Linked DNA regions of Homo sapiens: regions 2 and 3 are each reported to be linked to region 1. The links are microRNA targets in miRTarBase. Many come from high-throughput screens and were not tested one by one. Region 1 holds a microRNA gene; each other region holds the end of a gene's coding sequence.

Region 1 (4,064 bases):
AGGCCAAGAAGGGCAGATCATCAGAGGTCAGGAGTTCAAGACCAGCCTGGCCAACATGGTGAAACCCCGTCTCTACAAAAATACAAAAATTAGCAGGGCGCGGTGGCATGTGCCTGTAGTCCCAGCTACTTGGGACGCTGAGGGAGGAGAATCGCTTGAACCCGGGAGGCAGAGATTGCAGCGAGCTGAGATTGTGCCCTTGTACTCCAGCCTGGGCAACAGGACGAGACTCCATCTCAAAAGAAAAGAAGAGACATAGCCACCTGACTACGTAGAAAACTACCGTTCACAGGATGGGGTACGGATGCGGGGGAAAGATGGTTTGAGCCAATATTGAATTTAAGGAGCCCAAAGCCTGCCCAAATGAAAGTACACAGCATGGCAGTCAGGTAAGGCACCTGCGAGGCACAGTGGCCAAGAGTGGAGGAGTACAGTGGGCAGCTGAAACTCCCAAGGAAAACCACCTCCCTAGTTCTGCCTACACAAACATCAACGAAAAGTGGAAAGTGCTCCCACATTACATCATCCATGCATTTAACTTGCTCAAACCGAACTATGTAAGTTTGGTTTTTTCCATTTCTCTTCATACAACGAAAAAAATGTGGGCTAAATAACCCTTTTTACCTATGGAATATTCAGCACCTAGAACGGTGCATGCCACATACAGACACTCAAAATACCTGAATACATTCATGTATACACTATATACATAAACATTATGTATACTGCATGAAAACAGTATGCATTTATGTATATGATAATTAAAAAGTACACATTGTTCTGTGCCTTATGTGATGGGTGATGTTAAGAGGTTTTTTTTTTTTTTTTGAGACAGAGTCTCACTCTGTCCCCCAGGCTGGAGTGCAGTGGTGCGATCACAGCTCATTGCAACCTCCACCTCCCAGGTTCAAGCGATTCTCCTGCCTCAGACTCCCGAGTAGCTGGGATTACAGCTGCGCACCACCACGCCCAGCTAATTTTTGTATTTTTAGTAGAGACAGGGTTTCACCATGTTGGCCAGGCTGGTCTCGAACTCCTGACCTCGTGATCTGCCCATCTCGGCCTCCCATTACAGGCATGAGCCACCGCACCCGGCAAGAGTTTTTAATTTTTGCTCACAGCACTAACTTTATAGCCCAAACCCATGCACTTGAAGTGGCTCTACTCTAACCAGTGGTTTCCACCCTAGGTCCATTCTTCCCTCCATCCCCAGCTCATTATCCACATAGCATGATCTTTTAAAAACTTGGGAGGCCAAGGAGGGAGGATCACCTGAGGTCAGGAGTTCAAGACCAGCCTGGGCAACGTGGTGAAACTCCCGTCTCTACTAAAGATTAGCCGGGCACGGTGGCGGGCGCCTGTAATCCCAGCTACTTGGGAGGCTGAGGCAGGAGAATCGCTTGAACCTGTGAGGCAGAGGTTGCAGTGAGCCGAGATCATGCCAGTGCACTACAGCTTGGGCAACAGTGTAAGACTCCATCTTAAATAAAGAAATACATAAATAAATAAAAATAAATAAATAACAACGCAGCTAAATCACATCATTCCCTCCCCTGAGGCCACGATGCACGCAAAGTACTGAAGCCCTAAGGTACTTAAAACAAAAACAAGCAAGTCTTCACCTCTGTCTGATCCCATCCCAACCTACCTAGCCAACCTTACCATGTTCACTCTTCCCTTCCCTCCAGGCCAAGTAACCATGGCCACAGACCCCAGCTTTGACTCAGCTAAATGCTAAGCTCTCCCTTGCTCTGGCCTTTGCTCAAGTAGCCCCACCGCCAAGAAAGCTCTCATACCTGGTTCCTCTTAGCCTTCATCCCTCAGCTCTAAGCCAATCCCCTCGAAAGCCTCACCTTTCTGGACCACAGTGTGCCTGGCAGCCCACCCCACTCAGTCGAGATCATGGATTTCTTCTGAACCACTTCATTCTATCTGGATGTGTCTCGCAACCTGCACCTGCTTTGAGCATGGGTATATTGTGAAAGTCTTCTGCAGGCAGAGACCCTGTCTCTACCACTGACTGCAGGAGCCTAGAACGGTAATATTCACACAGGGCTCAACAAAATAGGAGGAAGGACTCTGTCTCCTTGCTGACAATTAAAGGTGTAGGAACAGGAAGACAAGATGGCAAATTCAGTGTGTGCAAAAGAGAGATGTAAATGGCCAAATATTATTCTGAAAGGATATATTCAACTATTTCATACACCAAAGACGATGAAAACAAGTATGGTATTTTAAGAGGTGTTTTGCCAACTACTACTAAGAAACAGTCAGTAAAGCAGATGAGGGGGCACCATCTGAAGGGGCAGTCATTAGTATTTATTCTCAGGGAAGAGTCATTTAGCTAGTTTTACCTTATTCCAATTCTTCCTAATTTGTTCACTAAAGTTAAGCTTAGCAAGTACCTTGTTTGCAGCACTCAACAAATTACAGTTGTAGCCAATTTTGCATCATATTAGGTTGAAGCAAAAATAATTGCGGTTTTTGCCATTAAAAGTAAAGCAAAATCCGCAAGTACTTTTGCACCAACCTAACAGCAATACTTGAGAAAAGCTTCTGATTCTTTATACCTAAACCTGGACACTTCCAACATTTGGGGCCAGATAATTCTTTGTTGAGGGGGCTCCACTGCAGAATGTTTAGGAGCATCCCTGCCCTAGCTGTGACAACCACAAATACCTCTCAACACCACCAAACACCAGCGTCTCCTCTTTACTCTCCCCCACCCCCGTCCCCCTTCTCCCCGCAAGCTTGACCCTGGTATCTGCCACTCGGCTGTCATCCTCTAGTCCTACACAATTCCGCCAGGTTGTTCTTTTCTACTGCCCTCTGCCCTCGGATTCTAGCATCCTAGTTTGGGCTGTAACACTTCATGCCCACATTGCAGGAACTGCCTCCTAAATGGGCTGTCTTGCACCCTCTCGCCTCCTCAATCCATCCAGCACACCTTCCACTGCAACCAGCTGAAGCTCACCCATCACTTTGACAGGGAACACCCCTGACACAGGTAGACTTCTTTTTCACTAAGTTTGGATTTGATTTGAAGACCTCATTCCTTAGAATCTTCTGAGTTTTGTACCCCCTGCTTCAGGGATTGGCAGATTGGGAGAGAGACTGGCAAAATTTGGGACCTCACCTGCAATGAAAGGTGAACAGTCTCTCTTCTAGGTTTCACACAAAAGAGTTCTTCAAGCAAGAGGTCTTCTAAAAATCTCATTTGTTGCTTTCAAAAAGACTGTAAAAATCACTGCACTCCAGTTTAAAATAAAATCTCCATTTGAAAATGCAACTGAAACTTTAAAATGAAATTAGAGAGAAGCCCAAAGGCAATATTTGCTTTAAAAAAAAAAAAAAGCACTCGGTCAGTCGGTCAGGCATGATGGCTCATGCCTGTAATCCCAGCACTGTGGGAGGCTGAGGCGGGCAGATCACCTGAGGTCAGAAGTTCAAGACTAGCCTGACCAACATGGTGAAACCCCGTCTCTACTAAAAATACAAAAATCAGCCGGGCATGGTGATGCACGCCTATGGTCCCAGCTACTCAGGAGGCTGAGGCAAGAGAATCGCTTGAACCTGGGACATGGAGGTTGCAGTGAGCTGAGATCGCACCATTGCACTCCAGCCTGGGCGACAAGAGCAAAATTCCTTCTTAAAAAAAAAAAAAAAAAAAAAAAGCCAGGCACGGTGGCTCACGCCTGTAATCCCAGCACTTTGGGAGGCCAAGGCATGCAGTGGATCATGAGGTCAGGAGATCGCGACCATTCTGGCTAACATGGTGAAACCCTGTCTCTACTAAAAATACAAAACAAAAACTAGCTGGATGTAGTGGCGGGCACCTGTAGTCCCAGCTACTGGGGAGGCTGAGGCAGAAGAATGGTGTGAACCCAGGGGGTGGAGCTTGCAGTGAGCCGAGATCACGCCACTGCACTCCAGCCTGGGTGACAGAGCAAGACTCCATCTCAAAAAAAAAAAAAAAAAAAAAAAAAAAATCAGCACTCAAAAAGGAAACATACATGGGATCAAGTCATAGAATAAACATTAGGTAGCTGGGCACACTGGTTCAT
Region 2 (4,064 bases), not on the chromosome of region 1:
GGAGGCGGAGGTTGCAGTAAGCTGAGATTGTGCCACCGCACTCCAGCCTGGGGGATAGAGCAAGCTTCTTTCCCCAAAAAATAAATAAATAAATAAATAATCAGTCTGGTTACAGTGTGGGGATATAGGATGGAGGGGACAGAGTTGAGGCAGGGAGAGACCAATGGGGGTCATGGCAGTCACCTAAACAAGAACTGGTGGCCTGGACTGAGTTGGTGGCAGTGGAGTTCGGTTGAAGTTGGCAGTGTGACCGCTAAGTTAAATCCACAGAACTTGCTCAGGAAAAAGGACAGGTCGAGAATAACTCATAGGTTTTCAGTTTGGGCAGTTGACACAATGCTGCTGTGTCTTTTGGTAGGATGGGGAAACCTGGGGTGGTGGAGTGAACAACGGCCACCCAGAGAGAGCAGGTCCTAATTCCTAGAGCCTGGAAATGTCACCTTCTATGGAAGAGATCTGTAGGAGTGATCAGGGGAAGGATTTGGAGAGAAGGTTATCCTGGATTATCTGGGCAGGTCCTGCATGGCATCACAAGTATCCCTATAAGAGAGAGGCAGAGGAAGGCCTCTCTTATAGGGAGAAGCGCAGTGGGTCACACCTGTAATCCCAGCACTTTGGGAGACTGAGGCTGGTGGATCCCTTGAGCCCAGGAGTTCACAACCAGCCTAGCCAACATGGTGAAACCACGTCTCTACTAAAAATACAAAAATTTGCTGAGTGCACGCCTGTAATCCCAGCTACTCAGGGGGCTAAGTTAAGGGAATTGCTTGAACCTGGGAAGTGGCGGTTGCAGTGAGCCGAGATCACACCACTGCACTCCAGCCTGGGCAACAGAGTGAGACTCTGTCTCAAAAAACAAAAAATAAGAGAGAAGCAGAGGAAGATTAGACCGGCACATACAGAAAAGGCCACGTGAAGATGGAGGCAGAGATTGGAATGATGCGGTCACAGGCCAGGAAACACCAGGGCATGGCAGCCACCACCTGAAGCTGAAGAGGAAAGGGGCAGGTTTTCCCCGACAGTCTCCAGAGGGAGCGCGGCCTTGCCATCATCGTGATCTTGGACATCTGGCCTTCAGAACCATGAGAGATTAAATTTGTTTGAAGCCACCAAGTTTGTGGTCATTTGTTACAGTAGCCACAGGACACCACAGCCACAGGATAAATCTCAGGGATGGGGGAGTAGGAAGATCATGAGCGCGGTTTTGGACATGCCCTTGACGTCCAGGCGGAGCTGCTGAATGGCTGGAGCGCTACTGGATGTGGCCTGTAAGGGACGGGTCTCCCGGAGAGGGAACTTCTGAGTCATCCCTGTGGAAGTGATGACTGGAGCTATGGGTGTGGAGGGGTAGACAGCCAGAAGAGGAGCCTGGAGGCCCTCAGACCATAAGTGGTGAGGACGAGAGGCTGAATCCTCAAAGGAGACCGAGGAGAGGCAGGAGGAGAGGCAGGGCTGTGGGGAGGCTGAGGGTTGCTGTTCACCCCTGCTAGGCTCCCTCATGCCCTCTCACTGGTCTGTGCACCCAGTTTGACTTCCAGTGGCCCGAGCCAGCATCTTGGTTAGAAGGCTACCCCGGAGCTTCCAGGACCCACTTAGCCTATGAGTATCGTGAATCAAAGGGTTATGGGAGGCTAAGCACAGTGGCTCACACCTATAATCCCAACACTTTGGGAGGCCAAGGTGGGAGGATTGCTTGAGGCCCAGACCAGCCTGGGTAACATAGCAAGATCCCATCTCTACTAAAAATTTAAATATTAGCTGGGTATGGTAGCAGACACTTGTCGTCCCAGCTACTCAGGAGGCTGAGGCAGGAGGATCACTTGAGCCTGGGAGGTCAAGGCTGCAGTGAGCTACAGTTGCACCACTGCGCTCCAGCCTGGGTGACAGAGCAAGATCCTGTCTCTAAAAATAAAGACTCAAGGCTGGGCACGGTGGCTCACGCCTGTAATCCCAGCACTTTGGGAGGCCGAGGCAGGCGAATCATTTGAGGTCAGGAGTTCGAGACCAGCATGGTCAACATGGCAAAACCCCATCTATATTAAAAATAAAAAAATTAGCTGAGCATGGGGTGCACACCTGTAATCCCAGCTACTCGGGAGGCTGAGGCAGGAGATCACTTGAACCTGAGAGGTGTAGGTTGCAGTGAGCTGAGATCGTGCCACTGCACTCCAGCCTGGGTGACAGAGCGAGACTCCATCTCAAAAAAAAAAAAAAAAAAAGCAGACTTGAGCATAAAGTGCTGGGATTATAGGCATGAGCCACCATGCCCGGACTTTTTTTTTTCTTGTTTTCTTTTCTTTTTTTTTTGAGATGGAGTCTTGCTCTGTCACCCAGGCTGGAGTGCAGTGGAGCAATCTCAGCTCACTGCAACCTCCACCTCCCAGGTTCAAGAGATTCTTGTGCCTCAGCCTCCCGAGTAGCTGGGATTACAGGTATGTGCCACCACACCCAGCTAATTTTTGTATTTTTCATAGAGACAGGGTTTCACCATGTTGGCCAGGCTGGTCTTGATCTCCTGACCTCAAGTCATCCTTCTGCCTTGGCCTTCCAAAGTGCTGGGATTACAGGTGTAAGCTGCTGTGCCCAGGCTCTGTGCCTTCATTTAAACCCATGTCTCCTGACCAAATTGTCTCTAAGACTAAAAGAAATGTGAGAAACAAGGAGTCTCCCATAAACAGGGAGTGAGGAAGGCTTGGGAACTGCACGTGTTCGTTTGTTGGGTCTAGAACATGGATCCGCTCTCTTCCCACAATCTGCAGAGCAAGTTTCAGGCAGGGCTGATACTGCCTGCTGCGCAAGGGTGAGGACGGTAAGCAAGGGATGCCTGGTGCTCCTGGATGTTGCTTCTGGCCATTTCCCACCTCTCCCAGCTCCCACTCCTCCTGATATCCTGCCTTACATCCAGCCACCCTGAACTTCTCATAACCAGAGTCCGCACGCCACTCCCCCTTTTACAGGACTGTTCCCTCGGCTTGCCTGGCAAACTCGGGTCCTGGGCCCTTCTCAGCCATCAGGCGTGTGCCCCTCTGCCAGGCCTCCCAGACACCTGCTCCTCCTCTAGTGTTTTGTTTTCTGAGACAGGGTCTCGCTCTGTCACCCAGGCTGGATCATGCAGTAGCATGATCATGACTCACTGCAGCATCAAACTTTGGGCTCAAGCAATCCTCCCACCTCAGCCTTATGAGTAGCAGGGACTATAGGCGCATGCCACCATGCCCAACTAATTTTTTTATTTTTGTATTTTTTGTAGAGACGGGGGTGTTACTACATTGGCCAGGCTGGTCTCGAACTCCCGGCCTCCAGCAATACTCCTGCCTTGGCCTCCCAAAGTACTGGGATTGCAGGCATGAGCTACCCTCCTCTAGTATTTCTGTAGCTTGAGTGAACTTCTGCTGTTCTAGGTACCCACAGTTCACCATCTGCCTCCCCACCTGTCTGCGAGACCCTTGAAGGCAGGGACGTGACTTTCCTCTATCTTCCCCAGGCTCAGTTATAGAGCCAGCTATAGGCAGCTGCTTGGGAGGCGCTGGTTAAGCTGAATGGAGGAACCAGTGGAGCTGAGATGCCCGTGCCCGCAGCCACCAGACCCTGGCTGAGCTCTCTCCAAGGTTATTACCTGGAGGCCATGGAGTGGAACTTCTGGAAGGCAAGAGAGAGGGAGGTTAAGGCTAGAAGGTGGGAAGCCAGGGCACTGTTGGGAAGGGGAAGGCCCTGGCGGGTATGGGGATGGGACGCCTCCCTGTCCACTCACCCAGATGAACTCATGGTGGTCCTCATTTCCGAACTGTTCCAGCACACACTCGGCTTGGGCCAGCCGCTCCCGGGTTCCCTGGGCCTGCTCCAGCTGCATGTCCAGGGAGGCCACCAGGCCACGGGTGTGACCCCCTATCCCCTCCAGGCAGCGGGCCTTCTCCTCGTCCACCGGGTGGCGCAGCTCCTGGAACTCGCGGCGGATCACCCAGCTGAAGACATCCGACTCATTCTGGGACAGGGAGGGCTGCTCACTGCAGAGTCACAGCCGAGCTGCCAGGCTCTGTCTGGCTGGCCTCGGTGTCCCCAGGGCC
Region 3 (4,064 bases), not on the chromosome of region 1:
TCTGTTGTAGGTAAAATATAGTTAGAACATTTTCTATTAAACTGGAAATGTTCTTCATCCCTTTATAAATGTGGCTCATGTGGTGAGGTACTGGTTTTAAATGTTATTTATTTTTATTAATTAATGTTAAATTTGAATAGCTACATTTCAACTGTCTCCTAGCCAAGCTTGGCTAGCGGTACTACATTGAAATTGAGTATCCGTGTGAGTATATGTGTGTGAATGCATTCATATGAGTGATGGTTACTTGTCTAGTTTAAATCTTTCTATAGGCTCACTGGCCTGTCTTGTATTAAGCATCAAGAGAAGAGTCTTTAAAAATCCCATTTATGATTGTTTACTTGTTCACTTTATTCAACTATATGTTGAACTTGTATCATTAGGTATATGCAATGATAAAAAATATATTACTAATGGTTTGGAAAATTAATTTATCATTATGAAGTATATTTCCCCAATTTCAGTAAATTTCATCTCGGCTCACTGCAGCCTCGACCTCACCTCCAAGGCTCAAGCGATCCTCCCACCTCAGCAACCAGAGTAGCTGGCTACAGGCCAATACCATCATGCTGGCTAATTTTCGTATTTTTTTGTAGAGACGGGGTTTCATCATGTTGACCAGGCTGGTCTTGAACTCCTGAGCTCAAGAAATCAACACATCTTGGCCTCCCAAGTTGCTGGGATTACTGACACAAGCCACCGCCCCTGAGTGCTCATGTACCATTTAGCTTGTGTTTTAAAAATCTACTTTTTCTGCCCTCCCTATTTTTAACTAGATGATGTTTTAAAAATTACTTTTCCCTCTCTATATAGTTTGATTTAAGCATTAGTCATTTACAACAAATATTAATATTAAAATGCAGACCGTTATGATTGGAAAATAAATCAATGAACAATATAATGAGTGGTTTTTATATATTTCAATCTCTGGCGTGGTGATATAGTACAATATTTTTTAATTATTTATTCTTCCCAGAGACATATATTTCAATGAGAGTTATCTGATTAATTTATTTTTAAAAAACTGAATGAGAGAATTTTAAGAACTATCAAGAAAGTAAGTTGGGAATTTAACTTTGAGAATTGATGTCAATTACAATGAAGTGGAAATGTATTTTCTCAGAATAATTAGTGACAAATACATTAAATTCCTATTGGTAAGATTATTATTTTAAAAATTTATCGTCATATTAGCAGTGATATTATAGGGGTATATGATAAAGAAGTACGTAATCCCAAGTTTTAGCCACCCTGTGTAAATGTAGAAGTTAAACATGTAAGAGACTCTGAAAAAGGTATAAGATTTTAGTGTTTGTGATTGAGATGGAAACAACTGCATGGGTAGTAGTCTTTGTTCTCCCCAAATCTTGTTTACTATAAAAATAATTTCTAAAAGTCACTTGAAAATGGACAAACTAAATGACACCCTAGCAGCTCAGTCTCTTATATTCTGAGGTGTATGATGAGATAAACTGATTCAAAATGGCCCTAGTGTGAAAACTTCCTGTTCAAATCCGAAGTGATACATTGATGAGGAATCTGCTTTTTGCACTCTTGCCTCACTCTGAGCTTTCACAGGGCAGTCTGTGAAGATCAGAGATATCTGTTTTTTGTTTTTTGTTTTTTTCTGAGACAGAGTCTCGCTCTGTCGCCCAGGCTGGAGTGCAGTGGCTCCCGATCTCAGCTCACTGCAAGCTACGCCTCCCGGGTTCAACCGTTCTCCTGCCTCAGCCTCCCAAGCAGCTACAGGCGCCCGCCACCACACCCGGCTAAGTTTTTGTATTTTTAGTAGAGACGGGGTTTCACCGGATCACAGATGTCTTTTGTGTCGTTAAGAGGTAACCTGACCTCTCCACTAAGGGGCGTGTGACTTTCTGATGACAGAAGGTATGTGTTGCTAGTCTCCTGTTTCTCTACTAGCTCATCTCCTTTAGTAGAAAATTGTAAATATTAAATGTGATGCAACAAGGTAAAGTTAATACAGAATAAAATCAAAGTAGAACTGTCTGTACATGAATAATTCAGGGTGAAAAGCAACCCAAAATATAATATATGTTTGAGGATTTCTTAAAGTATTTACATTATTGCCTGTGGAGAATTAGTCAAGCACATGCATACATCATAATAGGTTTGTTAATCAATATAATTTAGAGTGAAACCGATAAATATCACGACAATGAAGAATTAATTTGAAATTTTATAATCATTATAGATGTAATAATACTTTATATTTAGCCCAGACTTTAAAAATGCATTTTTAATGGATACATCAAATTGTGAATGTCAAACATAATTTCTCATACACATACTTATATTTAATTGAAGCAGATTTTATTTTTTTAAGAATGTAATAATGAAGTAGTTTCCATAAAATGCAAATCTAAACTTAATTATAAATAATAGGACGACCTAAAAAAAATTGAGCCAAACAAACATTGCAAAAAAGATGTACTACACTGACATGAGACTCCTACCTCATTAGTTATTTTACACACTCAGTATGAATTAGAAATAATAAAATGGCAATTGTGTTAAAAATAATTAAAATATCTAATATGTATTGAGGACTAATGTGTGCCAGGTTGTATGTTAAGGGTTTTATATACATTATACTTCATAAATTATTTTCCCCAATCTAGATTAGTAAACTGGTGTTGTAGACACCAAGTAACTTTGTAAAGGTCATGCATTATGAGTTTCAAAGCTGTAATTAATTTTAGGTCTCACTGGCTACAGAGCTCATTGACTAGATTATTAAATTATATTTTCTGATTTATTACAATTACTTACACAACCAAAGTGACCCTCGCTGCCTTTTAAAACAACCACAGGGTCTTTCTGAAAGTTTGAACTTAAAGTGTTCTTTCATAGATGGTCCAAACTTATATTTATCATTTTCAGTTTTCCTATTTTAGTCATTAAATCAATTACCAATCAATTCTGTAAAATAAAGAGTTAAATCTTTTTCAGTAGTATTTAGTTTATGCATAAGTTAATGTAATGTTTTACAAGGTATAAAATATTTCTTTAAAATTTTAACAATTTTTCTGTTTTCCTCAATCATTCAGAATAAAAAACATTTGCCAAGACCTCATGCCCTTTTAGTAAACGAATGTAAGTCACTAACTTAATGTATTTTAGTATTAAAAGTTGTTCTATATGCCAACAAATTATTCCTCCATCTTTAGCGCTCAATCCTTACATTAATGAATTTTAAAATTGTCATACAATTAGTGCATTTTATTTTCAAATTTCAATTTTAGTTTTTTACACAGGTATTCTATTGGTGATAAAATATTTCTGTAGAATCTGATTTTAAATTAATAAAGATATTTATATTCAGTTACTTCTTAGTTTTCACAAATGTATTGTTTTTTATTGTTCCCATTAATAATATTATGTCAAATATAGAAGGCCTTTTAAAAAGTGACCTATTGTTTAAAGAGATTTCAGTTTAAAACTTTAGGAAATTAGTACCAGACTTTTATATTGGTCAACAGCAAAATGAACATTACTACTCAGCCTCCAACACATGCAGTTTGCCTATACCAGGGATCCTGTCAAAATATACACCACTTATAGCTTCTTAAGTGCAGTTATCATAGAGCACAGTCCCTGACATCACACAGCTGCAGAGATGAATAAACAAAGAGGAACCTACTCAGAAGTGAGTCTGGCCCAGGACCCAAAGAGGCAGCAAAGGAAACTTAAGGGCAATAAAATCTCCATTTCAGGAACCAAACAGGAAATATTCCAAGTAGAATTAAACCTTCAAAATGCTTCTTCGGATCATCAAGGGAATGACAAGACATATCACTGCAAAGGTAAAACATTAAATAGATCTTCAATATTATTGTTCTAGGATGTGCAGTTGAATGCAGAAAGGTGGGGAAAGATTAGGGAATATTTTGCACTTGTGAGAATCAGAGGTCAAAGTCAGGATCTAATATTCTAATATGAAATCTGAAGCCTGATTTTATTCAGGCATTGTTCAATTGTAATTTGTGATTAACAACTCATGGAGCATTATATTTACTGATAATGAAATGGTATATTCTGAGAGA

The links. Region 1 holds the annotated microRNA hsa-miR-548k (AAAAGUACUUGCGGAUUUUGCU, at 2,501-2,522, opposite strand). A microRNA usually pairs through its seed, bases 2 to 8, with sites in the 3' UTR of a target mRNA and lowers its output. Matches are read on the target gene's strand: a 7mer-m8 pairs with bases 2 to 8, a 7mer-A1 pairs with bases 2 to 7 and ends in A, and an 8mer does both.
Region 2: miRTarBase lists TRIM74 as a target of hsa-miR-548k. Seed matches in the 3' UTR shown: 7mer-m8 at 3,327-3,333.
Region 3: miRTarBase lists KLRC3 as a target of hsa-miR-548k. The part of its 3' UTR that is shown has no 7-base or 8-base seed match.

What each region holds. Positions count from the first base shown.
Region 1 is chr11:70,282,444-70,286,507 of GRCh38, reverse strand. MIR548K (microRNA 548k) reads right to left here and starts at 2,553; the gene lies at 2,438-2,553. The region is part of intron 2 of PPFIA1 (PPFI scaffold protein A1); the gene reads right to left.
Region 2 is chr7:72,956,270-72,960,333 of GRCh38, forward strand. TRIM74 (tripartite motif containing 74) reads right to left here. Exons shown (of 5, transcript NM_198853.3): 4 at 3,752-3,982; 5 at 3,216-3,639. The coding sequence ends at 3,613. LOC124901671 (a long non-coding RNA gene) reads left to right here. Exons shown (of 2, transcript XR_007060381.1): 2 at 1-1,109. Among named protein-coding and RNA genes, the nearest start is that of TRIM74, 11 kb to the right of the region's middle.
Region 3 is chr12:10,409,149-10,413,212 of GRCh38, reverse strand. KLRC3 (killer cell lectin like receptor C3) reads left to right here. Exons shown (of 7, transcript NM_002261.3): 7 at 597-898. The coding sequence ends at 641. KLRC4-KLRK1 (KLRC4-KLRK1 readthrough) reads left to right here and starts at 3,067. Exons shown (of 13, transcript NM_001199805.1): 1 at 3,067-3,114. KLRC4 (killer cell lectin like receptor C4) reads left to right here and starts at 3,456. Exons shown (of 4, transcript NM_013431.2): 1 at 3,456-3,824. The coding sequence starts at 3,638.